Linked DNA regions of Homo sapiens. The protein of the gene in region 2 interacts with the protein of the main gene of each other region in a pairwise test. Each region holds a gene or a part of one and is shown on either strand. Other genes may lie near its edges.

The links.
Region 1: the proteins of DNAJB6 (region 2) and CNST interact in binary tests that used the Homo sapiens proteins (3 or more experiments, as listed by UniProt).
Region 3: the proteins of DNAJB6 (region 2) and CFAP100 interact in binary tests that used the Homo sapiens proteins (3 or more experiments, as listed by UniProt).
Region 4: the proteins of DNAJB6 (region 2) and MAGEC3 interact in binary tests that used the Homo sapiens proteins (3 or more experiments, as listed by UniProt).
Region 5: the proteins of DNAJB6 (region 2) and FAM117B interact in binary tests that used the Homo sapiens proteins (3 or more experiments, as listed by UniProt).
Region 6: the proteins of DNAJB6 (region 2) and RAB3IP interact in binary tests that used the Homo sapiens proteins (3 or more experiments, as listed by UniProt).
Region 7: the proteins of DNAJB6 (region 2) and LOXL4 interact in binary tests that used the Homo sapiens proteins (3 or more experiments, as listed by UniProt).

What each region holds. Positions count from the first base shown.
Region 1 is NC_000001.11:246,572,388-246,576,744, reverse strand, and holds part of CNST (consortin), read right to left. Parts: intron 1-4,357. UniProt on the Homo sapiens protein: Required for targeting of connexins to the plasma membrane.
Region 2 is NC_000007.14:157,343,268-157,347,624, reverse strand, and holds part of DNAJB6 (dnaJ homolog subfamily B member 6), read right to left. Parts: intron 1-4,357. UniProt on the Homo sapiens protein: Has a stimulatory effect on the ATPase activity of HSP70 in a dose-dependent and time-dependent manner and hence acts as a co-chaperone of HSP70. Plays an indispensable role in the organization of KRT8/KRT18 filaments.
Region 3 is NC_000003.12:126,421,756-126,426,112, reverse strand, and holds part of CFAP100 (cilia- and flagella-associated protein 100), read right to left. Parts: exon of another isoform or gene 4,336-4,357; intron 4,334-4,335; coding exon of another isoform or gene 4,261-4,333; exon of another isoform or gene 3,263-4,260; intron 2,789-3,262; coding exon 2,737-2,788; coding exon of another isoform or gene 2,621-2,736; coding exon 2,469-2,620; intron 1-2,468. UniProt on the Homo sapiens protein: May play a role in ciliary/flagellar motility by regulating the assembly and the activity of axonemal inner dynein arm.
Region 4 is NC_000023.11:141,893,306-141,897,662, reverse strand, and holds part of MAGEC3 (melanoma-associated antigen C3), read right to left. Parts: intron 2,998-4,357; exon of another isoform or gene 2,849-2,997; intron 2,395-2,848; coding exon 2,256-2,394; intron 2,179-2,255; coding exon 2,104-2,178; intron 1,481-2,103; exon of another isoform or gene 1,387-1,480; intron 1,233-1,386; exon of another isoform or gene 1,156-1,232; intron 1,079-1,155; exon of another isoform or gene 1,011-1,078; coding exon of another isoform or gene 782-1,010; coding exon 177-781; coding exon of another isoform or gene 35-176; coding exon 1-34.
Region 5 is NC_000002.12:202,724,992-202,729,348, forward strand, and holds part of FAM117B (protein FAM117B), read left to right. Parts: coding exon 1-18; intron 19-1,258; coding exon 1,259-1,372; intron 1,373-4,357.
Region 6 is NC_000012.12:69,818,608-69,821,884, reverse strand, and holds part of RAB3IP (rab-3A-interacting protein isoform alpha 1), read right to left. Parts: 3' UTR 1-3,277. UniProt on the Homo sapiens protein: Guanine nucleotide exchange factor (GEF) which may activate RAB8A and RAB8B. Promotes the exchange of GDP to GTP, converting inactive GDP-bound Rab proteins into their active GTP-bound form.
Region 7 is NC_000010.11:98,250,920-98,255,276, forward strand, and holds part of LOXL4 (lysyl oxidase homolog 4 precursor), read right to left. Parts: intron 2,878-4,357; coding exon 2,634-2,877; intron 1,550-2,633; coding exon 1,434-1,549; intron 784-1,433; coding exon 647-783; intron 258-646; coding exon 146-257; intron 1-145. UniProt on the Homo sapiens protein: Catalyzes the oxidative deamination of lysine and hydroxylysine residues in collagen and elastin, resulting in the formation of covalent cross-linkages, and the stabilization of collagen and elastin fibers.

The DNA.
Region 1 (4,357 bases), on a different chromosome or scaffold from region 2:
AGGGGGGTGGATCACCTGAGGTCAGGAGTTAGAGACCAACCTGGCCAATATGGAAAAATCCCGTCTCTATTAAAAATACAAAAATGTGCCGCGCGTGGTAACATGCCTGCGGTCCCAGCTACTAAAGAGGCTGAGGCAGGAGAGTCACTTGAACCTGGGAGGCAGAGGTTCCAGTGAGTGGAGATCATACCACTGCACTCCAGCCTGGGTGACAGAGTGAGACTCCATCTCAGAAAAAAAAAAAAGGATGTAAAAACATAATTTTTATGTGCTTCTAACTCTAACACAATTAAACCAAAACAAATTTACGAATTATGACATGCAAAAAAAATCAATAAAGTTAAAATAATAGTCACTGAACACGATGCTGCTCTGTAAAAATTAAAGTTTTGTTCACTAGTGGAATACGGTATACACTGTGACTGCACGGTTATCATAGGCACGTGAGGATCCAACTCTCCCACCACCAATTACTGAGAAATCTTTGTTTCTTTTTTTTTTTTTTTTTTTGAGACGGAGTCTGGCTCTGTCGCCCAGGCTGGAGTGCAATGGCGCCATTTCGGCTCACTGCAAGCTCCACCTCCCGGGTTCAACCAATTCTCCTGCCTCAGCCTCCAGAGTATCTGGGATTACAGGCGCCCGCCACCATGCCTGGCTAATTTTTGCATTTTTAGTAGGGACACGGTTTCACCATGTTGGCCAGGCTGGTCTTGAATTCCTGACCTCAAGTGATCTGCTCGCCTCGGCCTCCCAAAGTGCTGGGATTACAGGCGTTACAGGCGCGAGCCACCGCGCCCAGAGAGCACTGAAATCTTATATGAGAATGTTGTTTTAAAGTGTCAGTATTGTTCTTGAATAAGCTTATATTATTTTTTATCATTGAAATAAAAATAGGGAATTTTTAAAAATGCTAATTACTTTTTTCCTCTTCCACTTCTCTGTATTTTACATATTTTCTATGATAAACTTGTATTTTTTCTAGTTGAGTTTCATGACACCTTTATCGACATATAATTCATATACCATACAATTCACCCACTTAAAATGCACAATTCAATAGCTTTTAGTATTCACAAATTGTACACAATCAATTCTAGAACATCTTATCACCCCGAAAAGATCCCCCCTGCCCTACATACCCACTAGCAGTGATTTCCCATTCTCCTGCACCCCCACCACAGCCCCAGGCAATCACTCAAACCACTCATGTACTTTCTGTCTCTATAGATTTACATATTCTGGACATTTCACGTAAATGGAATTATACAATATGCGGTCTATTGCAATTAGCTTCTTTCACTCAGCATGTTTTCAAGGGGTATCCATGTTGTACTATATACTGATACTTCATTTCTTTTTATTGCCAAAGAATCTTCCACTGTACAGATATACCACCTTTTATTTATCTATTCATCAGTTGATGGACATTTGGGCTGTTTCTACTTTTTGACTCCTGTGAATAATGCTGTTATAAACATTTGTGCACGTTTTTGTCTGAACACTTGACAAAAGGTCAGGAGGTCAGGAGTTCAAGACCAGCCTGGCCAACATGATGAAACCCCGTCTCTACTGAAAATACAAAAATTAGCCAGGCTTGGCGGCGGGTGCCTGTAATCCCAGCTACTCGGGAGGCTGAGGCGAGAATCACTTGAACCCGGGAGGTGGAGGCTGCAGTGAGCCAAGATCGTGCCACTGCACTCCAGCCTGGGCAACAGAGTGAGACTCTGTCTCAAAAATAAATAAATAAATAAATAAATAAATAAATAAATAAAATACTTGAGGAAGATTTGTTCAGATTTGTTCTTTGACTCACTATGACTTTCCTTCATAATCTATTAAATTATTTTTGTTTTAAATAAAATACTACTAAAAATGATGCTTTTACATAGGAATCCTTATAAAGCCATAGCTGCTTATAAGAGAGATTTAGGAAGGACATGCAATAACCAACCAAGTCAAACTGATGCTGTGGTTGTTGTCCTTTTTTGAGTAACATATTCCTTGAAAAATCTGATGAAAGTTGAGAATTCCCTCTGAAAAATACACGTATTGTGCTTTGGGAGGCCAAGGCTGGAGGATCGCTCCTGGAGGAGGCCAGGAGTTCTAGACCAGCTGGGGCAACACAGGGAGGCCCTATCTCTGCAAAAAGTTAAAAAAAAAAAATTAGACTGCATACCTGCAGTCCCAGCTACTAGGGAGGCTGAAGTGGGAGGATTGCTTGAGTCCAGGAGTTTGAGGCTGCACGGAGCTATAATCTTGCCACTGCATGGCAACCTGGGTGATAGTGCGACAAGCTGTCTCTAAAAAAAATTTTTTTTAAAGAAAAAGAAAAAACACGAATTTTTGAATAACCATGTTTTCCTCAAGTTAAAATTTATTTATCTTTTTAAAAAATCTTTGGAGCGGCTGGGAGCGGTGGCTCACGCCTGTAATCCCAACACTTTGGGAGGCCGAGGCGGGCGGATCACAAGGTAAGGAGATCGAGACCATCCTGGCTAACACGGTGAAATCCCGTCTCTAATAAAAATACAAAAAATTAGCCGGGCGCGGTGGCGGGTGCCTGTAGTCCCAGCCACTCCGGAGGCTGAGGCGGGAGAATGGCGTGAACCCAGGAGTAGTGGAGCTTGCAGTGAGCTGAGATCACGCCACTGCACTCCAGCCTGGGCAACAGAGCGAGACTCAGTTTTATTAAAAAACATCTTTGGAGCATTATTACTTCTGTAATCAAGAAGGAAAAAAGAGGCAAAGATGTGTACTTCTACCCCCCACCACTTCGAGTTTCTAATAAAATATGCCTATTCTGACCTGTCAGCTTTCCATGGAAAAAACTAAAAGGTGAGGGAAGGCAGAATAATCTATAGAGACATTCTGGGCACATTTTTTCACTTACACTGAAGAGCTGGAGGAAAATGGAAACTCTCCAGCAAAGGCTATACAAAGTACGTGGTTTTACACAAAGCGTTACACAAGTACATGGAAGCTTTAGTTACAAAACAGATATTCTTAGAATATGTTTCCTCAGCCCAGATAAGTGTTCCTGGAGCAGAAATTTTGCTCATAAGGTTTTTGCACTCGCAGCTGTTCTCTTTGAGGCTTCAGGGAAGGCAAGCCATGGACACACAGGTTAAAGCTCTGTTGGCATTCACCGGGCAATCCCTAGGTTTTCCCCAGCTATGCAGTGGAGACAGGAAGGATAAAAAGCCCGCAGGCATCAGAATGCACGAAACTATAACCAACCAAGAGGCCACCTGATATAATAAAAACTAACTTCTTGAATTAAATACTATTTTACTTTAGGTTATTTTGAAATACAGCTTTCTCTGGCTAGTGAAAAGATGAGCTTTGGTGAATATATGATCTAACAGATTAATTTTAAAACAAAAGTTCAAATGTAATGGTAATAAGACAATCTTCTTCCAAGTCACAAGACCTATATTACATGATTAAAGTAGGGAAGAGCAAGGGTATTACCTCTAATTTTGGCTCTTTACAGTGCTTATCCAATGCTACAGGTATAACTCTAACTGGCATGCCGAAGAACTCCACAACAAAATTTTTAAAATACTTGTAGCAAGAAGAATCTAGAGATTGCTGTGTAAATCATTTAAAATAAAGCCTGATGGCTGAATTTGAATTAAGATGCCAAAAATGGGTATCAATAATGACTTTTCCAGGAAACTACATTTCACAATATCATAACCAGTATAATTTGCACAAACGTCCACCCCTCTTTTCATGTGAGTTGACGCTGAGGGAGGAAATCCTGTTGGTTACATGAATCCTTGTAAGATCCAATTTAAGTAAACTTTTTCATGCTTCACAAGTGGAAAAAAAAATCTAAAATGTTAGTTGTTGTTTCATGAGGTAAAAACAAATAACTCAGGCCTGGTGCAGTGACTCACACCTGTAATCCCAGCACTTTGAGAGGCTGAAGTAGGCACTCTGCTCGAGCTCAGGAGTTCAAGACCACCCTAGGCAACATGGCGAAACCCTGCTTCTATTTTTCTAAAAAATTAATAATTAAAAAAACCACATATCACACACATAAATAAATAACTCCACTATTTATTATTCAATAAATAAAACATACATTTGGCTGGGAGTGGTGGCTCACGTCTATAATCCCAGTATTTTGGGAAGTCAAGGCAGGAGGATCACTTGAGCCCAGGAGTTCAGGACTAGCCTGGGCAAAACAGTGAGATCTCATCTCTAAATAACAAACCACACACATTTTCACAAAAATCCTTATTGAAAAATCTTAGGCAATGTTTTTCAGTTCATCTAAAAATTATTTTTAAGATTTAGTTGTATACTGGGAATAAAAGCTGCAGAAGAGAAAAATAATGAACAAGGACAA
Region 2 (4,357 bases):
TTACAGGTACGTATTCCATCACAGTCATTCTGTGAGTTACTGTTTGTAGGTGAGGAAACGGGGGCTCAAAGGAATTAAGTAAATGTCAATGTTCCAGCAAGTTCAAAACCCAAGTCTGAGCCGAGCACAGTCACGTGCACCTAAAGTCCCAGTGACTCAGAAGGCTGAGGCAGGAGGATGGCTTCAGCCCAGGAGTCTGAGTTCAACCTGGGCAACATACCAAAGACACTGCATCTTTAAAAATAGTAAGAATCCAAGTTTGCCTCCAGAACTCATGCTAGCCTGTATCGTGGCACTATGCTGTCAATGTACACAATTCCAACCCTCAAGGCTATGGGACATTCTCTCACCAGTACTTGAAATCTCAAAATTACCTTTTTAGTTTTCATCAAATGCCAGTAAGACTAACAAATTTAGAATATAAATTAAATACAAATACGCATTACAGAAACAACAAAATGAAAATAGCTGGCCGGGCGCGGTGGCTCATGCCTGTAATCCCAGCACTTTGGGAGGCCGAGGCAGGCGAATCACGAGGTCAGGAGATCAAGACCATCCTAGCTAACACGGTGAAACCCCGTCTCTACTAAAAATAGAAAAAATTAGCCGGGCGTGGTGGCGGGCGCCTGTAGTCTCAGCTACTTGGCAGGCTGAGGCAGGAGAACGGTGTGAACCCGAGAGGTGGAGCTTGCAGTGCGCCGAGATCGCACCACTGCACTGCAGCCTGGGCGACAGAGCAAGACTCCATCTCAAGAAAACAAGAAAAAAAAGAAAATAGCTGAAGGTCTAGAAAGAGAAATCCACGTGTCTCCAAGGAAACCTGCAGAGCTGGCTGAAGTGCTGATGCTGCAACAATCCCCACTGTTTGCTGCAAGCTCACTCCTTACTGCTTCAGTCATCACTGATGTAAGACACAATTTAAAATTTGACAAACTCCATGAAAGGTTACCTGCATTCAAATTTTTTTATTAACCTCAGAATTTCAAGGCTACCTATACATTTCTATCAGTATTTCCCTATAGAAGTATTTTTGGTAACACTATCTTTTTTTTCCTCAGACCTCTCAAAAACAGTGTTTAAAAAAAACTGATAAAACTATATATTAAATATCCAACTGTGTATTAGATGATAAAGCAGCCTGAAGCTGTAGAAATACTAATGCATTCCAAAACAATTTTAAGCAAAAAGTTGCCTAATCAAGATATAAAACTAGGTACCAATTAGCATTATTTGATACATACTTGGACGATTTCCCTAGTCACAGAGAAACTAAGTTGTATCTTTAACTTTTTTTTTTTTTTTTTTTTTACTACTCCTTGCAGAGCAGGGCTACCCCATAGGCAGTGTGCCCGGAGTAGCCTAATATCATTTAAGTGTAAAATACATGGATTCATTTCTTAAAAGACACCATTTGTGGCAATAAAACATTTTAACTGGCCTTCATCTCCCTAAGGTTGGCCCTGAATCCTTCTGGCCCGCCCAGCACTGTGAGGATGAGCACAGAGGACAAAGCTCCTCTACTTCCCTCTTCTCCTGGCCCGTGTGTTCAATGCACATTACAGAAAACAGGTGATCCCAGAAAAATGTGGGCCCTCAGGAGGACTGGAAGGCACACTCAAGCTGCCTTCCCTGCCCAGCGAGAGCCTGGACTCCAGCCCTCCACCCTACAGAAGCTCAGCCAGGAAAAACCAGCTTCCCTCACCAAGAAACCAGTGCATCACCTGCATTTTAAAATAATATACTAAATCAAAAGAAGTAATTTCTACAGCAGATCACTCACATCAGAGCTCTACAAGCATAGGTGTCCATTAGAACCCCACTTGGCAAAAACCTTTTTAAAACCATGCTGCTCAAAAGACTCCATAAGCCAAATGCAGCTATTTAAATCTGAAGTCATTAAAATTATACACAATTTAAAATTTGGCCCCTCAGCAATCTTTGTTTGGATATGACCCCCAAAAGCACAAGGAACAAAAGCCGAAACAGACAAGTGGGATTACATCACACTGAAAAGCTTCTAGACAGCAAAGACACAGGAGTGAAACAACCTTGGAAATGTGCAGAAGGATCACTTGAGCCCAAGAGCTTGAGACCAGCCTGGGCAACACAGTAAGACACCATCTCTACAAAAAGATAAAAAAAATTAGCTGAGTGGGGTGGCACATGCCTGTACTCCCAGCTATGCAGGAGGCTGAAATGGCAGGATCACTTGAGCGCAAGAGATCAAGGATGCTGTGAGCCATGTCATGTCACTGCACTCCAACTTGGACAAGAGACAGGGCAAGGCCCTGTCTCAGAAAAAAACAAAATATATAAAAAATAAAAATTTTAAGCCAGGCGCAGTGGCTCACGCCTGTAATCCCAGCACTTTGGGAGGCTGAGGCGGGTGGATCACCTGAGGTCAGGAATTCAAGACCAGTCTGGACAACATGGTGAAATCCTGTCTCTACAAAAAATACAAAAACTAGCCAGGTGTGGTGGCGGGCGCCTGTAATCCCAGTTACTTGGGAGGCTGAGGCAGGAGAATCACTTGAACCTGGAAGGCAGAGGTTGCAGTGAGCCGAGACCACTCCATTGCACTCTAGCCTGGGCAACAAGGGCGAAACTTCATCTCAAAAAATAAAATAAATAAAAATAAACAAAAAACTTTAAAGTTAAAAATGATAAAATAAAAGTGACAGTGCTGTAAAGTAGCACTTTAAAAGAAATCACAGCTGGGTACAGTAGCTCATGCCTGTAATCCTAACACTTTGGCAGGCTGAGGCAGGGGGATCACTTCAGCTCAGGAGTTCAAGACCACGCTGAGTAACACAGCAAAATCTTGTCTCTACGAAATATAAAAACTCAGTAGGGTGTGGCAGTGTGCACCTGTAGTCCCAGCTACTGGAAGTGGCTGAGGCAGGAAAATCACTTGAGCCCAGGCAGTCGATGCTAGTGAGACGTGAACGCACCAATGCCCTCCAGCCTACGTAACGGAGCAAGACCCTGTCACAAAAATAATAAATTTTTTTTTAAATAAAAAATAAAAAAACAAATAATTTCAGGCTGGAAGGGAATTTGCGTAGAGCAGGAAGATATTCTCTAACTACAAAATTAACTTTTTTTTTTTTTTGAGTTTGAGTCTCACTCTGTTGCCCAGGCTGGAGTGCAGCAGCACAATCTCAGCTCACTGCAACCTCCACCTCCCTGGTTCCAGCGATTCTCCTGCATCAGCCTCCCGAGTACCTGGGACTACAGGTGTGTCCCACAATGCCTGGCTATTTTTTTTTTTTTTTGAGACGGAGTCTCACTCTGTCACCCAGGCAGAGTGCAGTAGAGTGCAGTAGAGGGATCTCGGCTCACTGCAAGCTCCGCCTCCCGCGTTCACGCCATTCTCCTGCCTCAGCCTGCTAAGTAGCTGAGACTACAGGCACCTGTCACCACGCCCAGCTGATTTTTGTATTGTTTTAGTAGAGATGGGGTTTCACCATGCTAGCCAGGATGGTCTCAAACTCCTGACCTTGTGATCTGACCACCTTGGCCTCCCAAAGTACTGGGATTACAGGTGTGAGCCACCACACCCGGCCCATAATTAACATTTCTAATAACAATTATGAAACTTCTTTAAACTATTAACTAGGTCCTACTGTCTATTAAGGAAGCCATAGAAAACTTTTCAATTAAGAAATTAAGAAAAAATATTTCTTAGGAAAACTCGGTTTGTTAATTTCTGCAATTTCCAAAAGCAATACATCTAAATCAAGTTTAAAAAAACGAAAAATCTCTATTAAAACCATGAAAAAAATTAGCCTAATCGCCATTAATCAAAAATAACCTTCTCCAATAAATTCAATGACCTCTAAGTTTAGGACTTTTAAAAAAACACGTCACATAAAGATTAGGCGTGGGTAGCTCATGCGTATAATCCCAGCACTTTGGGAGGCCATGGCAGGTGGATCACCTGGGGTCAGGAGTTTGAGAACAGCATGGCCAACGTGGTGAAACCCCGTCTCTACTAAAAATACAAAACCCAGTCAGACGTGGTGGCGCCTGTAGTTCCAGGTGAGGCAGGAGAACTGCTTGAACCCGGGAGAGTTTGCAGTGAGCTGAGATCACACCACAGCACTCCAGCCGGGGCAACAGAGCAAGACTCCATCTCAAAAAAAAATAGTGGTTTCTAAATTCATCTGAGGCCAGGTGAGGTGGCTCACGCCTGTAATCCCAGCACTTTGGAGGGCCGAGGCACGCAGATCACCTGAGGTGTTCAAGACCAGCCCGGCCAACATGGCAAACCCCTTTCTCTACTAAAAATACAAAAATTAGCCAGGCATGGTGGTGAGCGCCTGTAGTCCCAGCTACTCGGCAGCCTGAGGCAGGA
Region 3 (4,357 bases), on a different chromosome or scaffold from region 2:
AGTTTTATTTCTTCCAATCTATATACATTTTATTTTTCTTGTCTTATTACATTAGCTAAGACTTCCAATACAATATTGAAAAGTAGTAGTGAGAGAAGACCTCTTTGCCTTATTTCTGATCTCATGAGAAAGCTTCTAGTTGTTGTTTTTTTTGTTTCATTAGGTAAGATGTTAGCTGTAGGATTTTTGTGTTCTTTATCAAAATTGAGGAAATTCCCTTCTATTCCACATTTTCTGAAAGCTTTTATTATGAGTGGATGTTGGATTGTGTTCAGTGCTATTTCTTATGATCATATCATGTGACTTTTCTTATTTAACATGTGGATATGACAGATTATGTTAAGTTTTGAATGTTGAACCAGCCCTGCATACCTAGGATAAATCCCATTTGGTTGTGGTATATACTTCTTTTCCTATACTGTTGGATTCAATTTGCTAATATTTTGTTGAGGATTTTTGCATCTATGTTGAGGATATTGGTGTCTACTTTTCCTTTCTTGTAATGCCTTTGTCTAGTTTTGGTATTAGGGTCATACTGGCTTCATAGAATGGGTTAGGAAGTACTCCCTCTGCTCCTATCTTCTGAAAAGTGATTGTAGAGAATTGGTATAATTTCTTCCTTAGATGAAATTCTTCCTTTGTAGAATTCACCAGCAAACCCATCTGAGCCTGGGGCTTTCCCTTTTGGAAGGCTATTATTTATTTAATTTGTTTAATGGAATAGGCCTATTATGATTGTCTATTTGTTTTATATATTTTTAAGACTATATTTTGATTTTTTTTCTGAGAAAAGATGGCTGAGTTCATGGAAGTTAAATACACATGGGCTGTGACTCCCCTGGAAACAAAGTATGGGTGCTCTCAGGGATGGCTTGGCTGGCTGAAGACCAGCTTTGGGATGTCACATCCAGCATTCTGCTATGAGGTTTACGTTTGCATGCATGTGTTGGAGGAGGAACCTGTCTTCTTGCCCAATTATCTGGAAAGCTGGAGCCTGTCCACCTCTCCCCAGCTCATCTTCCTCTGTGTCTGTCACCTCCCAGCTTTCCAGGGCACATAGTCTTGCCTGAGGCTGGGGATTTCAGGTCATTATGGGGACTCTTTGCCATACTGCACCAACGGGACATGGGTGCTCAGGAGCATGGTTCCCCCATGGGACACTTAAGCCTCAGTGGGCTCCCACCTCAGTGCCTTTGCACCTGCTGTTCCCGCTGCCTGGGACCCTCTTCGCCCAGCCTGTGTGGATGGCTTTCCTCCCACTCCTCAGGAAGTTTCCTGACACCTCCTGGAAGCCTTCTCTACCCCTCCCATCTGCTGTCACCCTCCATTTTAGCCCTCTTTCTCAAATTGCTTTATTTTCCTCCTAGAACACATCAGTATGCACAAGTCACATCTGTGGATCTGTTTGTTGTATCTGCTGCCATTAAGGTCAGCTGCATGAGGGCAGGGCCTTGCTTTATCCTTGCAGAGCTTAGACCCAGGCCTGACCCAGAACGGATGCACAGGCAGTGTGTGGGGAGTGAGCAGAGGATTCCCTGCTCTGGACATGCCTCACCAGTGCCTCAGGCTGACCCTGCCCTGCCCAGTTCTCCTGGAGGCAGGTACCCTGCAGGGGACTGAGTGGCCACACCCAGCAGGAGGGACCATAATAGCCTCAATTGGGCTCCAGGTGAGAGCTGGGCAGCCACCTGACTTCTCCTGCTGCCTCTCTGGCTGGAACTGGGAGGGCAGGATTTTCCCAAGGCCCTAGCCACTTTGCCATGCTGGACAAGCTGTGTTTTAGGCCTGTCCCCAGAGGCCCCAGTCCTGGGTGGCCAGATGGCCCTCACCCATCCCTGCCCGTCTCAGCCCCACCTAGCCCCAGCCTGCAGGATGGCACAACTCGCCATGCCCATGTCCTCGTGCTCAGGGCTGCACCCACTCCCGTCCCCGTTATGCTGCTGAACAACAGCAGGGGACACACTTCACAGCAGCCCACAGGTGGCTTGGCCTTCCCCAGTTCTGTGCCGCGAACACCCGCTCAGTGGTCTACGAAATATGAAGCAGCAGCAGCTTCCAGGCCCTTCTGAGCAAATGACTGCTTTCGGTGCCTGTGTGAAGCATGTTAGTGCTGCTATGAACTGGGGGGTCAGGGTCGCTGTGGACCTCCAGCCACTCCAAGGGCCTCCCAGGAGCTTGGCAGCAGCAGAAGGCGCCTAGGGCAGAAGGTCCTTGGAGAGGCCTGGCTCTAGCCATGGGCTGCTTCAGGGTGGGCACGGGTGCCTGGGCCCTGCCCACCCCCAGCTCCACCACCCTCTCTCCAGGATCCGGCCCACAAACGGAGCTTCGCTCGGAGCTTTTCAGACAACCTGGACCAGGCCAGGGCCACGGACGGGTGTGGGCTGTTTCCCCAACTTGGCTCCCAGTGCTAGGGGGATCCCAGGATGAGAGCGGCAGGGAGCCCCCACTGGCCACCGCATAGCACCTACATGCGGATCTGGGTGTGTTTCAGGGTGTGGCTCAGCTCCTCCAGGGTCTTCTCCGTCTCCTGGCTGTTCTGGATCAGCGACAGGTTCTGCTCCTCCAGCTCTCGGAAGACATCCAGGAGCTGCTGGGGCTCCGTGAAGTACAGCTGTGGTTCCTGCAACCCACAGGTTTTGGCAGGGACTGGACAGGGACAGAGCCAGAGGGGCAGGGGTGGGGGCAGGGAAAGAGAGGGGCGACTTCCGAATTCCAGCCCAGCACTGGGCCATTCACCTCCCCATCGCTGTCGGTGTCCTCCTGCGTGGGGGGGATGGGAGAGTTCGACCTGCGAAGAGATGGCAGGGTCGGGACTCTGGGACCAGCCTGAGCAGACAGGAGCCAGGGGAGGGGGCACAGAGGTCTTGAAGGCGTTGGCAGCATCCCCATCCCTCCTCTCCCAGCTGCCCACAAGTTACCCAGAGGGCAGCACCAGCTTCCTCACAGTCCCCAGCTGCCACACTGCAGCCAGGGGATAGTTTCAATCCACTCATTTTCCCAAGGCCGTAGCCACTTTGACATGCTGGACAAACCATGTTCCAGACCTGTCGCCAGAGGCCCCAGTCCTGGGTGGCCAGATGGCCCTCACCCATCCCAGCTCCACTGCACTTAGAATAAAACCTGCTCTCCTCTTGGGTCATGCCAGGCAGCCCTCCCAGCACTCACCTTGCCTCCCCTTCCCCAGCCCCTCTGCCCTGCCTGGCCAGGTCCCATCTCTCTAGGTGCTGCCCTACCCCAGGCCTCTGCACCTGCGGCTCCGCTGCTGGGGCTGCCCCTCCTCCCTCACCCTTGTTTACTGAGTGCCACCTTTGAGGCCTTTCCTGCCCTGCCTCCCCCATCTAGGGTCAGTCTTGGCCCCTGTCCTGGGGGTCCCACTCACAGCAATAGAGGGACTCTCAGGGCTGCCTCCAGGTGATCCTGAGTGCCCAGGGGCAAGGTCTGTCCTGGACCAGTGGAGAGGGGCTGGGAACAAGCTGTGTGAGCTTTAAGCACTCAGTGTGGGCCCCAGAAGGCCCCACTCGATGGGGACCTCACCTGCACTGACTTCCAAACCTGCCCTCCCAGCCTGCTCCACCCTGGGCCTCACCTAGGATCTGCAGGTCCTGCTGACTGAGGTGGGGGGGGCTGCGCTGGCTTGCCCCAGGCACCTCAGGGACCTAAGCTTGGGCTTGGAGATGCCAGCCCCTGATCCCCAGAAGCAGAGAGGCATCAGGGCAAGGTCCTGTGGGACTCTGACAGCAGATCCAGGAGGGCTTCCCAGGAGAGGCTGTGATAACAACTACAGCACTCGCCAGACCCACGCCTCACACTGCACACCGATGCCCATTTTACAGATGAGAGAGCCGGCTGCCTGCAGGGCGCTGCTGGCCCATACGATGCCTTTCTGATAATCCACCCTCCAGATGGATGTAGCCTGGGTCAGGGAGCCTGACCTGGCGGTTGGTGGGCATGGGCTGGACTTCAGCCCCCATGTTCCCTCTTGGCTGAGTGAGTGCCTTATATAGCTCACAACCTGCCCAGCTATACTCAGTGGCCCTGGTCACCTGGCAAATAGATGGAGGGGCCAGGATTGAAACCCAGGACAGTGTGATCCCCGACTCTGTTCTCAAGTCTCCCAAGTGAGGGCCTGTCTGGTAGGGGGCAGTCCATGGCTGAGGGAGCCCTAGGCGGAGCAGGCTGCACTGCATACATTAGAACCTCTGCTCCTCAACGCAGAACTGGAAATGTCCCCCCACCAGCAGGGCGTCATGGTGGGCAACGTTAACAGCAGCCTGTGCGTGGCGCAGCAGCATGCCCCAGTGGTGGCTGGTCTTCACCACAAGGCGTGGCCACACTGGGCAGAAAGGAAAGCCAGCTT
Region 4 (4,357 bases), on a different chromosome or scaffold from region 2:
ACTCTAAGACTTCTCTTGCTGGCCTCTGAATGGGCTCTTGGACCCCACAAAAATTCATAACGTGGAGGAGCACTGTTGGGCACCTCCCGGTACTCCAGGTACTTTCTCTGCACCCAATGTATAGTGAGCAGCTTTCTGGGATCCCCATATATAAAGTGCTCCCTCCCAGCACACACCCCTATTGCACTCAACACTTCCCAGATGACCTCCTCGGGGACACAGCTGCCCTTTATGAAGATCATACTGAGAATAAGAATCAGGAGACAGTTCTTGGGCATGCCCTGGTCATCAATCAGGCTTCCCTCATAGGTGAGGTCTAATGTGTCTTCAAAGAAATAGGAGTGGTTGTCGGGGTCCATATCAGTCAGGGCAATGCCAAAAATTAGCTCTATGAACTCATGGGCTTTCCCGAAGATCATGGGAAAATAGTCCTTATACTTCTTGATGACAGTCGTCAGCATCTCTGCCTTTGTGACAGGCTCTTTTGTTTGATATTTGAGGAGAAGAAACTGCACCAACTCAGCCACCTTTTCATCCAGGGCATACCTGGGCAAGGATTCACTTTCTGGCAAGGCATGCCAAGTAGCTGTATCCTCCTCTTCACTGCTGGACTCCTCATCCAATCGGGTCCACAAAAGAGGGGATGAGCAGGAGTCTAGAGGACTCTGGGGAGGACTCTGCGGAGGACCCTGGGGAGAGATCTTGGGAGGACCCTGGGGAGGAATCTCAGGAGGACTCTGGGGAAGAGGTGGCATCCCAGCAGCAGGCATATCCTCATCTTCTGGAACACCCAGAATGAGAGTAGAGGGTAAGGGTGAGGACAAGGGTGAGGATGAGGACAAGGAAGAGGAGGAGGGGAATAAAAAGTGGAAAGAGGAAGAGGAAGTGGAGGAGGCATCCTCCTCCTCCTCATCTATGGAATCCTGTGCATCTACCAAGTCCTCTGTCACACTCGGGTTCTGGAAGTCTTCCTCAAAGCTGAGGCGTGGAAGGTTTGGAAAGAGAGGCATGAGGCCTGTTGTTCAGGAGCAGCAGGTAAACGTGTGAGCAGGGATGGGGATGATGGGATCCCACAGGCCTGAGGAAGACAGTGACAGTGTGAGTAGCTTCAGCTGAGAAACTCACCTATGATGGTTCTGACAAAGGCTGGCTTACAGCTCTTCTTCTCTTAAGGTGGTGCTCTAGGGCCTCACAGGTCGCCTGTCTTCCTAAGAGGTTTGCTCCCTCAGAACCTGTAGGAGGATGTGAGAAAGCACCTCGGGGCACAGCTGGCAGGCAGAGCCTGAGGCACCAGGAATGGCAGTAGGTGGCTATGGCCAGGTGCTGCCAGGTCTGCTCTGTTTGTGGGGGTAGGGCCCTTGGTACACAGTCAGGGCGTGCACTCACCTTGACTCCTGATATTGCCTGGGCCTCCTCTGCTGTGCTGACTTTAGGAAGTGTGCCTCAGACCCAGGTCTTCAACTCCTGGTTCCTGGAGCACCTGCAAGAGGAAGTGAGGGAGCCCCTCAGGCTAAAGACTGCAAGCAGAGTCTTGGGCCTCCCAAGGCTGACAGCTGGGGCTGACCAGACTCCCAGAGCCCCACAGTTCTGGACTGCATGGTCCCATCAGAATTTAATTAGCATCCTCACCTTTTCTCAGACAGGGCCATGTCCCTACCACTCTTCTGGCCAAAACTCAGGGCAAACTCCACATCCCTGAGAGCAGCGGGAGGTAGCGAGGTGGCAGCCACCTCCCAGCACTCTACCACGGGGGCAGTCGGGGTGGCCTCACGTCTGTTCTGATGCACGTGGGACCTCTCCGTCCTCACTCTTATCACCAGCAGGGCCTGGGAATCTTCCCTCTGCCAACTGGAGGCAACTCTCCCTGCTGACTTGTCATGGAACCCCCCAGACCAAGGCCTCCCCTTCCCCTCCACCCCTCCCCCTCCCCTCCACCCCTCCCCCAGCAATGAGAGGACTGCCGCTCAGCCTGAGCTGACTGAGGAGCTCTACGAGGGCTGATATGAGGAGCAGGGTGGGAATCTCTGGGAAGCTGTCCTCTGAGGTGGGGGTTCCCCCAGTCCTCCTCAATGTCTTCCTATTTATTCCCTAGAGGGCTGGCACCTCCTCCCTTCTTCTGTTGTGGGGACGCCTCGGTCAGCCCTCGGCGGCCATCTTCCTGTCTGTGGCCTGCAAGTCCTATGGCAGCGCAGGGCAGACCGGGGCTTCTTCTGTCCTTGGTGCGAAGTCCCTCAGTTCTCCCTTAGGGCCCTTACCTTGAGGATTGGCCAGGTCTAAGACGCTTCCCTCTGCTGACCTGAGTCCAGACTCCTCGCAAAATGCTTCAGGTCCTTCAGACTCCCACAGTGCAAGTCGGGAAAGCACATCCGCGAACCCTGCCAAGGCTGACCAGGGCTGACAGCAGAGGCAGCGTGGGGTGGGGCCTCCTCTCCATGGAAAAACCACCCCCCACCTCTCCGCCTCCTTCCACCTTTTCCTGACCACTTCCCCGCACTCCACTTCTTCCTGCCCTCCTCAGCGCCCCCCGACCCCTTTGTGCCCACCTCCCTACCCCCTCCCACCCTCCTCCCTGACCCCTTCCTCTCCTTAATGCCCACCTCCCCGCCCCTTCCCACCCTTTCCTGTTCACCTACTGCCCCCTTTCACCTTTTATTGCCCATATTCCCACCACTCCCACTCCTTCCTGCCCACTTTCCCACTCCCTCCCACCTTTTCCTACCCACCTCCCAACTTCCTCCCACCCCTTCGGGCCTACCAACCTGCCCCCTCCCACCCCTTCTTGCCTACCTCCCCACTCCCACCTGTTCCTGTCCACTTCCCTGCCCTTCGCCCACCTCTCCCTGCCCACCTCTCCGTTTTCACCTCTCCATCTGTTTTGTCCAGGGGTGACAGCAAGGAGTGGCTGGGCGACGCCTGGGCCTTCCCTCCGTGTTGGGAGATAGCTATCCTTCCACAGAGTTCCCTTCTTGCTTGTTGGCCAGCCCCGGGGCTCCTTTCTCTGCTTAACTGAAGCTGCCCCGTGTCTGAAATGAGGTGGGAAGGCCCCTCAGTCTTCCTCAAGGTTTTACTCCTTCCAGGGCCGGCACTCCCCCCTTCTCCTGTCCCGACAGCAACAGTTGTTCTGTCATCCTCTAAAATCCATTCCAAAACCTTCTACTTTAAGTACTACCGTGTGTGAAGTTAATAGAATCTCTCTCCTGACCTATGTCAAAGGCTCCCTTAGTTTTCTTCTTTCCCTATCCTTGTCCCAGAAAAATCCATTGTCTTTTCAGCAGCCTGTGCGTGATCTTTTAAAAAAATTATTTTTAACATTTTATTAATTTAATGTCATTAATTTTTATTATAATTTTTATTAATTTTTAAAATACACTCATCAGATTTAACTATTATGTGAAATTATATGTATTTTAGCAAATGCGTGGAGTTCCATATCTACGAACCAAGTGTCACACTGACCAGTTCCATCACCCGAAAAGTCCCCTGTGCATCTCTTTTGAGGTCAGTCAAGGCACTTCTCCAAAGACTCTAGCAACTATGCTCTGTTTGCAGTTCATATAGTTTTAACTTTCACAATTTGTCATATGAGTAGGTCCACAAAACATGGATTTAAAAGTCTGGCTGCATCATTTTTCATCTCAACTAGCAAGGAATGAGAATTCCTCTTGTTGCATATCCCCTCTTCCATTTAGTATTTTAGATTTTCAGATTTCAGCCATTCTAATAAGCCTGTATTTGAATCTCCTTTGTTTTTTGTTTGCATCTTCCTAATGACAAATGACGTTGGTCATCTTTTTATATGCCTTTTCCTGATTGGTATATTCTCTTCAAATCATTTGTGTCTTTTTAAAAACTAATAGACATCATTTTTAGAGCATTGCTAATCCAAAAATACAGAGAGAAAACTTCATCAAAGTTACAGAGTTCTCACATATCTACGCCCCCCCCCCCAATTCCTGCCCTCCTGCCCTGCCCTATGCACGCACACAGACACACACACACACACACACACACACACACACAGTGTCTCCTATTATTTATATTTTGTATTATTATGGCATGTTTGCAACAACTGATGGACCTGTATTGATACCTCATTATTAGGTCAAGTCCACAGTTTACATCAGGAATCACTCAACGTTGGGGATGCTGTAGGTTTTGATAAGTGTGTAATGGTGAGTATTCATCATTACAGTATCACACAGACTTGTTACACCATTTTAAATCTCTTGTGTGCTCCACCTATCAATCCCCCTTGCCCCAACCCTAACTCCTCAGCCTCCGGAAACCACTGATATTTTTAGTGTATTCATAATGAACTGTTTCTAAATATTGTATGATTGGAATCATACATTATGTA
Region 5 (4,357 bases), on a different chromosome or scaffold from region 2:
ACAGATCAACTTAAGGAGGTCAGAAAAATGGTTCTAAGATAGTGGGTGTGGAAATATGATCCTTTTGTTGGCTATTTCCTTGATATTATGGGCAGCAAGGATTTGTCGTTTTCCATTGATTTCTTTTTTCTTTTTGGCTTCTGAAATAACAAAAACAATTATTGTGTTGATTTAATAAAGATTTCAATAGGGATATTTATATATCACTTACCTGATTATGTATGTTTGTCTTTTTTTAGGAGAATTCATACCTGTCTATTAACATCAGATTTAAAAATTGTAACAATACAACAAATTCACATTTATTCTTTTTTTTTTTTTTTTGGGGTGTGCATGTGTGTGTGTGAGACGGAGTCTCGCTCTGTTGCCCAGGCTGGAGTGCAGTGGTGCGATCTTGGCTCACTGCAGGCTCTGCCTCCCAGGCTCAAGCAATTCTCGTGCCTCAGCCTCCCAAGTACCTGGGACTGCAGGTGTATGCCATCATGGCCAGCTAATTTTTGTATTTTCAGTAGAGATGGGGTTTCATCATGTTGTCCAGGCTGGTCTCTAACTCCTGACCTCAAGCAGTCTGCCTGCCTTGGCCTCCCAAAGTGCTGGGATTACAGGCATGAGCCACCGCACCTGGCCACATTTATTATTTTTCTATATATGGTGGTGTTTCTGAAATGCAGTACTCACTATAACCATGATGGTTATGGCTCCATGCTATGATTACCATTTTCTGTGCTGCTAATTAGTGACATTTTCATTTCACACATAATGTAGAAATGCAAAAACTCGGTCAAAGAATAAATAAGATATTCATTGGAATTGCATTCGTTATTTAAAGATGATATCTGTGAATATATTTCATGACTTGAGTTGATTTTTAAATACTGTGTAATTTTTGGAACTGTTGAAAGCTAGGTGTTCAATAAATCTAAATTGAAATAAAAATTAACTTATGGTAAAGGCAATGAGAATGATTGTTATTTTTTTAATTCTTCGTGAAAACTGTAATGTAATTTATTCTAAGTGCTGAAAACTATTTGTGTAGTACTTGGGAAGCTCGAAGGCTGAGAACAATGTTGGAACATATACACATACATGCATGTGTAGATGTGTATAAAATTATGAACAAAAAATGAGACTTTGTGATATGGTTCAAAAATTCAAAGGACTTATTAAGGGTAAGTTTTACTGGTTCTTATTAAGCAAGGATGTGTTTTTGTTTCATGTAGAAAACACTCTGGTGTACTTGCTATTTTTGCTTTCTCAGATTGCAAAATTACGCCAGCAGTTGCAGAGAAGTAAACACAGCAGTCGGCATCATCGAGATAAAGAAAGACAGTCTCCATTTCATGGCAACCATGCAGCTATTAACCAGTGTCAGGTAAGAGTACCAATACCACAAAATCCAGAAAAGGAATTTGTTGTTTTTCTGGTGATTTGTTATTTCATTGGTAATTGTTTAGGACAAAAATGCTCAAAAACATATTTGAAACAGTGATTTAAATACTGAATCACAGTCTTTATAAGAAAACAGAATATTAAGTTGACAAAATGATATTTTCCTTTAGTGACCTAAGATACGACTTCTAGGAGACATAGCTACTTATCTATTTTGGTTTACCATATTTTTGGCTTTATCAGTTCAATATTTTGGAGGCAGAATGACACAGAGAATTAAGCATTGGGTATGGAACAGGCCCTGGCTGAATAACTTATCTTTTCTAAGTCTCAGTTTCCTCATGTGAAGATGGGAATAATAATACCTGTCTCGGGCGGGGAACATCACACACCAGGGCCTGTTGTGGGCTGGGGCGATGGGAGAGGGATAGCATTAGAAGAAATACCTAATGTAAATGATGAGTTAATGGGTACAGCAAACCAAAACGGCACATGGGTATGTATGTAACAAACCTGCATGTTGTGCACATGTACCCTAGAATTTAAAGTATAATTTAAAAAAATGTAAAAAAAAAAATAGCTGTCTCATAGAAGTCTTTTGATAGAGACAAACCTTTATCTGCTTTGATTTTTTAGTAGAACCCATGAACTGCTCTTGATGGCTCATCCATCCAAAGAACACTTTTTTTTACTGAATTGAAATTGGATGAGATCTCTTGGCAAGGAGAAAGCAAGTTCATTTCAGGTCTTTTCAGGATCTTTCAAGTTCCAGAATTGAAGCTTTGGGAATGAGGAAGGCTGGATTGAATTTTCCATGTTAACAGTAAGGCAGCAGGGCCTGGAAGGTAGAGGGAAACTAGAAGACTTAGTTCTGTGACTCTCAGGTTGTTTTATAATACTGGAGTTGGCAAACTGTGGCCCGGGAGCCAAGAATGTCCCACCATGTGTTTCTGTAAATAAGGTTTTATTAGAAAACAGTCACTCTCATTTTTTATGTATTGTCTATTGCTCCTTTTTGTGCCACAAAAATATACATTTGACTCTCTATATCTTCAGGTTTTGCATTTATGGATTCAACCAACCATGGATCAAACATATTTTTGGAAAAATAGAATAGAATATGTATAAATATAAATATATTTTAAAATATAATTAAAAGTACAAATAAAAATACAGTATGACAACTATTTACATAGTATTTACATTGTATTAGGTATTATAAGTAATCTGGAGATTATTTAAAATATACAGGAGGATGTTCCTAAATCATAATGCACTTACCATGCCATTTTATATAAGGGACTTGAGTATCTGTGGATTTTGGTATTTGGAGGGGGGTCCTGTCCTGGAACCAGTCTTCTGAAATTGAGTAGTTGAAACAGAGACTGTCTGGTTCACGAAGCCTAAAATACTTACTGTTTGGCCCTTTACAGATAAGGCAGGCCAACCCCTTTTATAGTTTGGTAGTGTCTGATGTTTGTTAAATGTATAGATTGTTTGCAATGGAAAGTATGGGTAAAGGTATAGACTTTTTCAAACTGATTTTGCCCCAAAATATTAATACTCGGGTCAGATTTGATTTCACAGGTTTATAGAGATTGTTTTTTGTTTGTTTTGAGACAGGGTCTTGCTCTGTCACCCAGGCTGGAGTGCAGCAGGGTGATCACAGATTCACTATAGCCTCGACTTCCTGGGTTTATGTGATCCTCCCACCTCAGCCTGCTGAGTAGATGAGACTACATATGTGCACCACCATGCCTGGCTAATATTTTTTATTTTTTATTTTTATTTTTGTAGAGATGGGGTCTGTGTTGCCCAAGCTGGTCACTAACTCCTGGCTTTGAGTGATTCTCCCACCTTAGCCTCTCAAAGTGTTGGAATTACAGGCATGAGCCACTATGTCCAGCCAAATTTATAGTTCGATTATAATTTCCAGTAACTTTTTTCTATATTTGATATTTTAATTAAAAACATGGTTATACATTAGTATTCGTGTATATTCTGTACAAACTAGATTTATTTCTGGAGAAATAGAAATTTTAAATTGACAAAATAAGAAATGAAAAATTTGTAAAGACTAATAACTTTTGAATTTGGAATGTTAATTAAAAACCCAGTCTCACTCTCAAGAGGCTGAAGACCCAGATGATTTTACAGATGAATTTGCCAACCTTCCCCTTCCTCTCATTCATTCATAAATAAATGGTATGTGTTTCTAAAAAATAAGGCCACTTTTTACTCCCAGTCCATATTTTTACTCCAAGTAGAATAGGGATTAGGATGGAATTTTATTGAATTAAGTGGCTAGTTTTAGGACTTCAGAAGTTTCTGAAGTGATTATTTTTTAAACTTGTGTTAAAACCAACAATTTTAAAGTGGTTATTCAAATTTTCATTTTTTTCTTCTTGCAAGTTGAATTTACTTAATAAAGATTATTGGAATTTACTTGAAATTTATATTTAATTTAAAAACATTTCCTTGCAGAGAGGGTAAGGACAAGAAAATAGAGAAACTTGAAAAATAGTTCATCTAGTTTGAGTTTTGTACACTTGACACATCAAGCGTCTTAACTGTTTCTCCCATTTTATTTAGTGTTATCAGCCAACCGCAAGTCAGGCACATGTGCATCATGATAGTAATGACAGTAGTACTCATGTTTAATTGAAACTCACGCTGGCCGGGCACGGTGGCTCACGCCTGTAATCCCAGCATTTTGGAAGGCTAAGGTGGGTGGATCACCTGAGGTCAGGAGTTCGAGACTAGCCTGGCCAACATGGCGAAACCACATCTCTACTAAAAATACAAAAATTAGCGAGGCTGGCGGGTGCCTGTAACCCCAGCTACTTGAGAGGCTGAGGCAGGAGAATGGCTTGAGCCCAGGAGGCGGAGGTTGCAGTGAGCAGAGATCGTGCCACTGCACTCCAGCCTGGGTGACAGAGTGAGACTCCATCTCAAAAAAAAAAAAATT
Region 6 (3,277 bases), on a different chromosome or scaffold from region 2:
GAGTAAAGTGGGTCCCTTAGCCTTGGTGTCAGGGAGACAATCCAGGATGGTGGGCCATAGAGCAAACCATGGAGTGCATACCCTGAGCAAGGGTGTAGCCACCCGACAGGTGGAGTCACTCAGCTCCACCCAAGTGTTGTCATTCAAGACTGTGGGCTCAGTGTTGTCGAAACGGCACATTTTAAAAAAGAGCAGCTTGAAATGCAGATTTTAGATTTCCTCATTTTTAAATGCTGGCAATTGTTCAAAAACAAGATGGACAAACAGAAAAATAAACCAAAACACTGTGAAGGACAAATAGCACATTGTGTGAAAACACAATGGAGCCCACAAGATGCAACCCTGGTGCCGAGATCTGCGGAAAGTGAAGAGAATTGAGAAGGAAGTTGCTGGGAGGACTAGAAAATCTCTATTAATCAGAATCCAGAGCACTCCACTGAGAGCACAATCCAGCTGCTGGAAATAGGATTTAAGTGGAAATTCCTCCCTCTCAGTGAATAACAAATATGATGCGTATTTTCCTGATTATGGTCTTTACGTCTTACATTTTCCAACTCTCTTGATATCCCCATTTTGCAGAGTTTCGGTAGAGAATCATTCTCTTGAATAGTAATCTAATCTAGTTGTGATTTGGGTTTGCTTTGGTATTGACATTTCCTAGAGAGCTCCAACAGATACAGATAAAAGCTGAGCTGCTGCGGTTAAATCTGGGGATGTGGTGATGGGGGCCCTGTATCCCTCGAGACTGTCCCTGAGACCTGTAGCTCTAGAATCTAGTCCTCATGACCTCAGACGTTCCTCCAAAAGTAAACTGTGTGTGAACTTGTGCTCCCTTGAGAAGCTGCCTTTAGGAAGGGTTTCAATTCTTTTAATATTTTATCAAGTTTAGTCCTCTTCTACATTTTTTTTTTAAGTTTTGCAAATTTTCATGGAGTTTTTTAAAGCTTTCATTGTTATTTCTCTGTTAACAACTACCACTATGAAAACTTGATTTTCTATTGAGTTTGGGTTTTTTTTTTTTTTTTTCAGACGGAGTTTCACTCTTGTTGCCCAGGCTGGAGTGCAATGGCGTGATGTCAACTCACCACAACCTCTGCCTCCTGGGTTCGAGCGTTTCTCCTGACTCAGCCTCCCAAGTAGCTGGGATTACAGGCATGCGCCATCACACCTGACTAATTTTGTGTTTTTAGTAGAGACAGGGTTTCTCCATGTTGGCCAAGCAGGTCTCGAACTACCAACCTCAGGGGATCCGCCCGCCTCGGCCTCCCAAAGTGCTGGGATTACAGGCATGAGCCATCGCACCTGGCCAGTTTTTTTTTTTTTTTTTTTTTCTAAGTGCAATGGGAAGCCACTCAAAGGGCTTTAAGCAGGGAAGTGACATTATCTGATTTTCGTTTTATAAAGATCCCTGCGGCTGCCGTCAGTGATTGTAGGAGGGCAGGAGTGGATGCAAGGACAGCAGACATTAGTGCAGGAGTTCAGGTGAAAGATGATAATAGCTTGGGCAGAGTGGTAGCAGTGGACATGGAGGGAGGTAGACAGATTTAAGATGTCTCGGAGACAGCTGATGGAATTTGCTGATAACTGGAATGGGAGTGACAATGACAAATAAAGGAACCTAGAATAAGCCCCAGAATTTTGCTTAAGCAACTGAGAGTTCAGCCATGGCAGATCTGTTAAGCACAAAAGTTAAACACAAATACAAATTCATACTGCATTGGACTCTTTTAAGCAGTGTCTTATAGAAAAAACATTTTATCTAGGGAAAAATGCAACAACAAAAACCACTGAAAACAAAAGCCTATGAATAAAAGCAGACCCGTTTTAGACTGGATGCACAAAACAAAAACACACAGGATTCTTGTGGTGGCGATGGGAGTAAGTGAAGACGTAACAGGTTGCAAGTTATTTTAAGGACTAAGACCCAATGTTCAGAAACCAAATCTTGTTCTTCCAGTGTGGATGCTTAGTCAAAGACTGTAAATTGTCTTCAAGCTGAGAGAGACCATGAAGAGAGAGGAGTGGCCACCTAACTAACCTTCCCAGTTTTTGGGAGCCAAACCTAGACCAGAATGTAGGTCTAAGTGACTCCCAATCCAGAGCTGTCTCCATTAGGCCAGGCTCTCACCCCAGCTCCAAACCAACTTCTAAAAACTTGTCCAAGAGTCCTCCTCTTCTTTAGAATTGGTAATCTTGGCAATTAAATTCAGCGTAGAAACACTCTCCTGAACATAATCAGCATGCTGGTTCTTCCTTTTCTGTTGCCTTGCTCTTCCTAACAGCTCCTCCTTTCGTCTTTGCAGGCTGCTTCTCTGTCACAGGAACTCAGGGCTCAGTGCTGTACTTCATCTCCAAAGTGTCCCTAAAGCGCCCATCTGATCCCATGGCTAACTACTCCCCAAATTTTCTCCTGGACTGACCTTACTGAATTTAGATTTGTACATCCAATACCTGCTTAACATATCCACTTTGATGCTCAGTGGGCACCTCACACTTGATCTGTCAAACACTGAATTTCTGTCTCTGTTATGCACATACCCAAACTTTCCCCACCATGTATTTCCCCATCTCAATAAACTGCAATAGCTCAAGCCAAAAGCCTAAGATTCAGACCTGAATTCTTTCCTTTCCTCTCTCTCAAATGCAATTCAACAATTTTCTTACCTTTTATTTTTTGTTTTGGAATGAAGGCACATATAACTGAGCTAGTAATAATGCTTGATTCATAATACACCACCGATGTTCCATGCATAACTCTCTTATTCATTTGTCCATGCATTTATTTTGTTTTTGAATTTTTTTAAAGGGGGGCAAGGTCTACGTTGCCCAGGTTGGAATATAGTAGCTATTCACAGGTGAAATCATAGCACACTATAGCCTTGAACTGGCCTCAAGGATCTTCCTATCTCAGACTCCCAAGTAGCTGGGACTATAAGCACGCACCACTACACCCAGCTCATGTACTTACTTTTAATGACAAATGAACCACCCCAAAACCCACCACCTAACCCAGGGACTAAAACATTACCAGTGACTTACTCATAGATTTGCTCCTCCTCTACCTCTCCAGAGGTAACCACTATCTTGAACTTTATTACTTTTTAAAAGTTTTGTCACATATGTCAATGCCTAAACAGCTGTTCAGTTTTAGTTGTTCTTGACTTTTATAAGAAAAGTATCATGTCACATATAGTTTTCTCAGAATTGCTTTTTCATTCTGAGTTATTGTGCTGCAAGTAGCTGGTATTCATTCATTTTGCTGCCATGTAATAATCAC
Region 7 (4,357 bases), on a different chromosome or scaffold from region 2:
GAAATGCATCTCTGTTCCATCCATAGCCTTTTGCACACCACACACATACAAGTCACACGCTGGAGTGTGGGAGCAGAGGGTACATTTACAGTGTTCCAGCTCCCTGAGCCTATAGATGGCTGATTCCACAGTGGCTCGGAGTTACCTGTGTGGCAGTTGTGCAGCCAGACCCGGTGCCCATCATACTTGCAGCGGCACTGCAGCATATTGTTGGAGAAATCTGACTCTGCCACTTCATAGTGGGGGTTCACAATCACCTAGAGTGAAAGAGGGGACAACTGAAAATGGGTGATTTGGTTTCTGAATGAGTTGACTGTGGCTGTGATAATCCTTACATGTGTTTCTATTTGCTTCATTAATTCTTAACAATTACCCAGGAGGTAGGTACTGATGTTCCCATTTTACAGATAGGGACTGAGAAGTCCCAACTGAGAAACTGATTTATCCAGTGTTCACTGAATCAATACTCAAACACAGGTTCATTGGACCCAGCTTGACTGTTACTTCCCTAACAGGACAGCTCCTTTAAGTGACAGGCCTGTCGGAAACCCTGTATGGGAAATTCTTCCCTTCATTTGCCCTCAGGGAAAGTTGTGGAACATCTGGAGGAAATCAGGCTCTGTGGGGAATCCCCCAGCCGCCTTACCTGGAAGATATAATTCCCGGGGCCCACATCTGTGATATCCACCCACTGGCAATCAATGTCATGCCGGTAGGTGTCCCAGCAGCCTACAGTCACTCCCTGTTCTCCAAAGTTGGCACATGCGTAGCGCCGCTGCAGTCCTGTAAGGAAGGGGACAGACAGGTTTTGAGGCAGGACGAAGCACTCTGCTAGGTCTTTTATTTCCTTTACCAGTTCAGTGTCATCATGCCCAGTTCACAGATTAAGGACCGTCAGAGCTAGAATCCTGCTGTGAATCCAGCACCATAGCAAACCACATTGTGACAAAGATAGGATTTGTTTGACTGCTCCAGTGCAAATCCCTGTTGAACTAGGAACTGTGGTTGGGAGATTCCAACGCTCCCGTGCTAATTTACTTGTGCATCCGCCTATCCATCCTTCCAAACCTCTAAAGATTCAGTGTTTACCATGCAGTTCCTAAGGGTTAGGGACTGTGGGTGTGCAGACAGGAAGCAGGCAATGCTTGCCCTCGGAGAGCTCAGCAGAGATAGGACAGGTCTGCAACTCTTCTCCAAGATGGAAAGTGCTGAGTGTTTTAAAAGAAGAACAATGCGTGGGGAATTCAGAGGAAGTAAAAACCTCCTGCGTAAGATTTCAGAAGGTAAGAAATTGCCTTGAATGCTAACTTTTCAAGCCAGGGTCTCCAGGTGCCCTGGGCTGCTGAACAGGGCAGAGAGAAAGCCTGATCCCAAAGGGGCTGAAGAACATAACAAAAGGAGATGCTGATAGGTGCTGACAGGAAACCACATACCTGTGGGGCAGTTTGTGTCCTCCAGACAGAAGCTGGCCTTGTGCCCCTCAGCCACCTTGGAGCCATTGAGAGTGAGGAGGTCGTAGTGGGTGAAGACCTCAATGCTGTGGTAATGCCTGCAGAAGGGGTAGAGCTGTCAGTGCGGCAGCAACAGGAGAGGGTCCTCTCTGGAGGGGCTGGTAGGGAAGACAGGCCCCAGGCCCCATCATGACCCGAGAGGAAAGTTATAGTAGGCAGTGCCCTTCTCCCTCCCAAACCCGAGATTAGTGTGACGCACAGCCTCCTTTGCTGGCACCCCTGCCAGGCAGCAAGTACAGCTGCCCCCACCACCTAGGGTCTCAACCCAGGCAAGAGGTAGAAGCCCTGCTCTGGTCGCCTCCAGGAGGCTGGTGCCTGACAGCAAGGCCTGAACTGGGGGGAGAGGCGGGGCACCGGGTCTGTGAGCAGCCTAGGAGCTGACCTGCTGGGAAGAGGGTCCCTGTAAGCCTGGGACCAAATTGCTACCATTGTTTCCAATCCAGTTATAATGACAGCTCTGTTCATGCTACAGGGAAAGGTGCTTATTATCTCAGGCGAGACCAAGTCCCAAAGTCATTGCCCATTCCTTTCCACTTTCTCCACCCGTGGCTATGTTCTGAAGAAGAAAAAACAATTCTGCCTTTGTCACAGGCATTGTCTCTCCCTCTCTCTGGTCTGGAAGCTCCTGATAGGAAAGAATGTTCATTGTCACTTTTTTAGTGGCAGTCTGTTCATGCTGTTCTTTGAGGGCCTTGCCTTACTACTGAAGGAATCAGCGAGCTTTTCCTGCAGAGCCAGCACCCTGGATGGGATGTCTATTTTGGGCCCCCAGGTTCCTGGGAGTCCCCACTTTACCTGGCTTCTGAAGACAAGGCCTATGATCCAACATAGGAAAAGTGTCAAATACCATTCTAACAGAACAACTCTGCTGGCGGTGACGCCTCTATGGGATGTTGCTGTGGGAAACAGACCCCACGGGCACCATTGACATAGTGAAGGCGAGAGCGATGGAGGGGCAGGTGGATGCCGCTGTCCTCACTGCCTCCTGCAGGCAAGGCCAGCAAGGAGAGCGCACACCCCTCCCAGGAAAACTTGCCTGTGGCCAGGGAAGGGCCAAACTGCTCCCTGGACCCTGCTTTTTGTTCCTAACCCTCTAGTGCCAATGCATGGGCAGGCTCTAACCTGTGGCACTGGTGCCAAACCCAGCTATCGCGTCCAGTCTTTGGACGAAAGTCAGTCCGGCCCAGATTGTAGATCTGTGTGGAGAAGCGCAATAGGCGGCGGTATCCGTAGGGCCAGTCCATGTGATCCGCAGACTTGGAGAGGCAGTTCTCCTCGTGGGCACAATACAGCTGGCTGAGCGGGCGGTCCTCCAAGTAGGCCGTCTCCTGCACTAGCTGGGCGTTCATCACCAGGTCTGGTGCACCTGGGGCGGCGGAGGGCATGGCAGTGACTCAAAGGGTGGAAAGGCAGCCAGTCTTAGTCTCCAGCACAGAGGGCAAGCTTGCCCCCAGATTAAACCCTCCGAGAGGACCCCACAAAAGAAGGGCAGTTTTAAGAGTCAGGAGATGGTGAGTTCTAATAACATTTAAAGGAAGTCTATCACCTTAACCTGGGAGGCAGCTACAGTGTCATGGTTAGGCTTGCTGGTTTTGGAGCCAGGCCACCTGGGTTCATTCTTGGCTTACTTTCTGACTGTATAATTCACTAGCTCTATAACTGCTTAACCATTTTGTCTCTCATTTTCATCATCTGTAAGATGAAGATAATGGTGATATTAATCTGATGACACCTGTAACATGTCTGGCCTAAGTAAACATGCAGTTGAAGCTAGTATTTATTTTGTAAAATGCTTTTAAGCCTGTAAAGTGCCTTTATGTAGCTTAGTTCATATAATCCTCTCAAAAAGCTCTGCTGATACCTAACCTGGATACTTTGCCTGTACTGTCACTAAAAATCACTATCACTAAAGTAGTCCTGGGCGGAAGTGAGGCCCTGCCACACCACTGACCACAGCATGCATGCCACCTGGGCAGGCCGGCCGCAGCTTGCCCCAGGCTGGAGCCATCTGCATCTGGCAGTTGGCCATGTAGGGTCCTGTGGTATATATTGGAGAGAGCCAGGAAGTGCCCACTGACAAACCTAGAGTTTCTTGGTGAAAGAAGGCGAGCTTTCAGAGAGAATGAGAAGAGAGAGTAAAGGAAAGAAAGCAATGTGAAAAGCCAGGGAGGAAAAACAGGTGGTTACAGAGACTGCAGATTGGCTGACTGTGCCAAGTTGTCGTGAAGGATCAAATGTGTTCAAGAAGAGCGCTCCCACTGTAGGCAGTGGAGCAGGGAGGGGTTCGAGGTTCCCAGGAAGGGGAGTCAAGTGAGGAGCAGGCTCCCCACGTGCTGGGAGGCCTTGGTGATGGGGAGGTCCACTCTCATGCCCCATCCCTGCAGGGGAGGGTCTGATGGATGGGCCCAGTGTTCTCCCCAGGGTGCCCTGGACAGAGAGGAAGCCAGGAGCTCACTGACAAAGATGAAGGATATCTTGGTGTCGAAATTTGGCCACGAACAAGGTCAAGTGGCCACTTGGGTTGATGCTATCTGTAACCTTTGGGCTGGATATAGTCCATCTTGGCACTGACCTGGCTGGGAGATGTCAGAGATGCTGCTGCCCTAAGAATCTGGGTTTGTGGGGCAGAGCAATGCCACAGATGGCCTTGTCCCAAAGTCTTTTTGGGTAAATCCCACAGCTCAGGAAGAGAACACACAGCTGGGCCTTGGCCCCGGGTGTGCTCATATTTGTATGTCCTCTACGACAGCTTTCAAACTGCTTTTCTGACTACAAACCACAGTAAGAAATACATTTTATGCTGTAACCCAGTATACACATAGTTCCAAGGAAAAACTGCCCTTGCT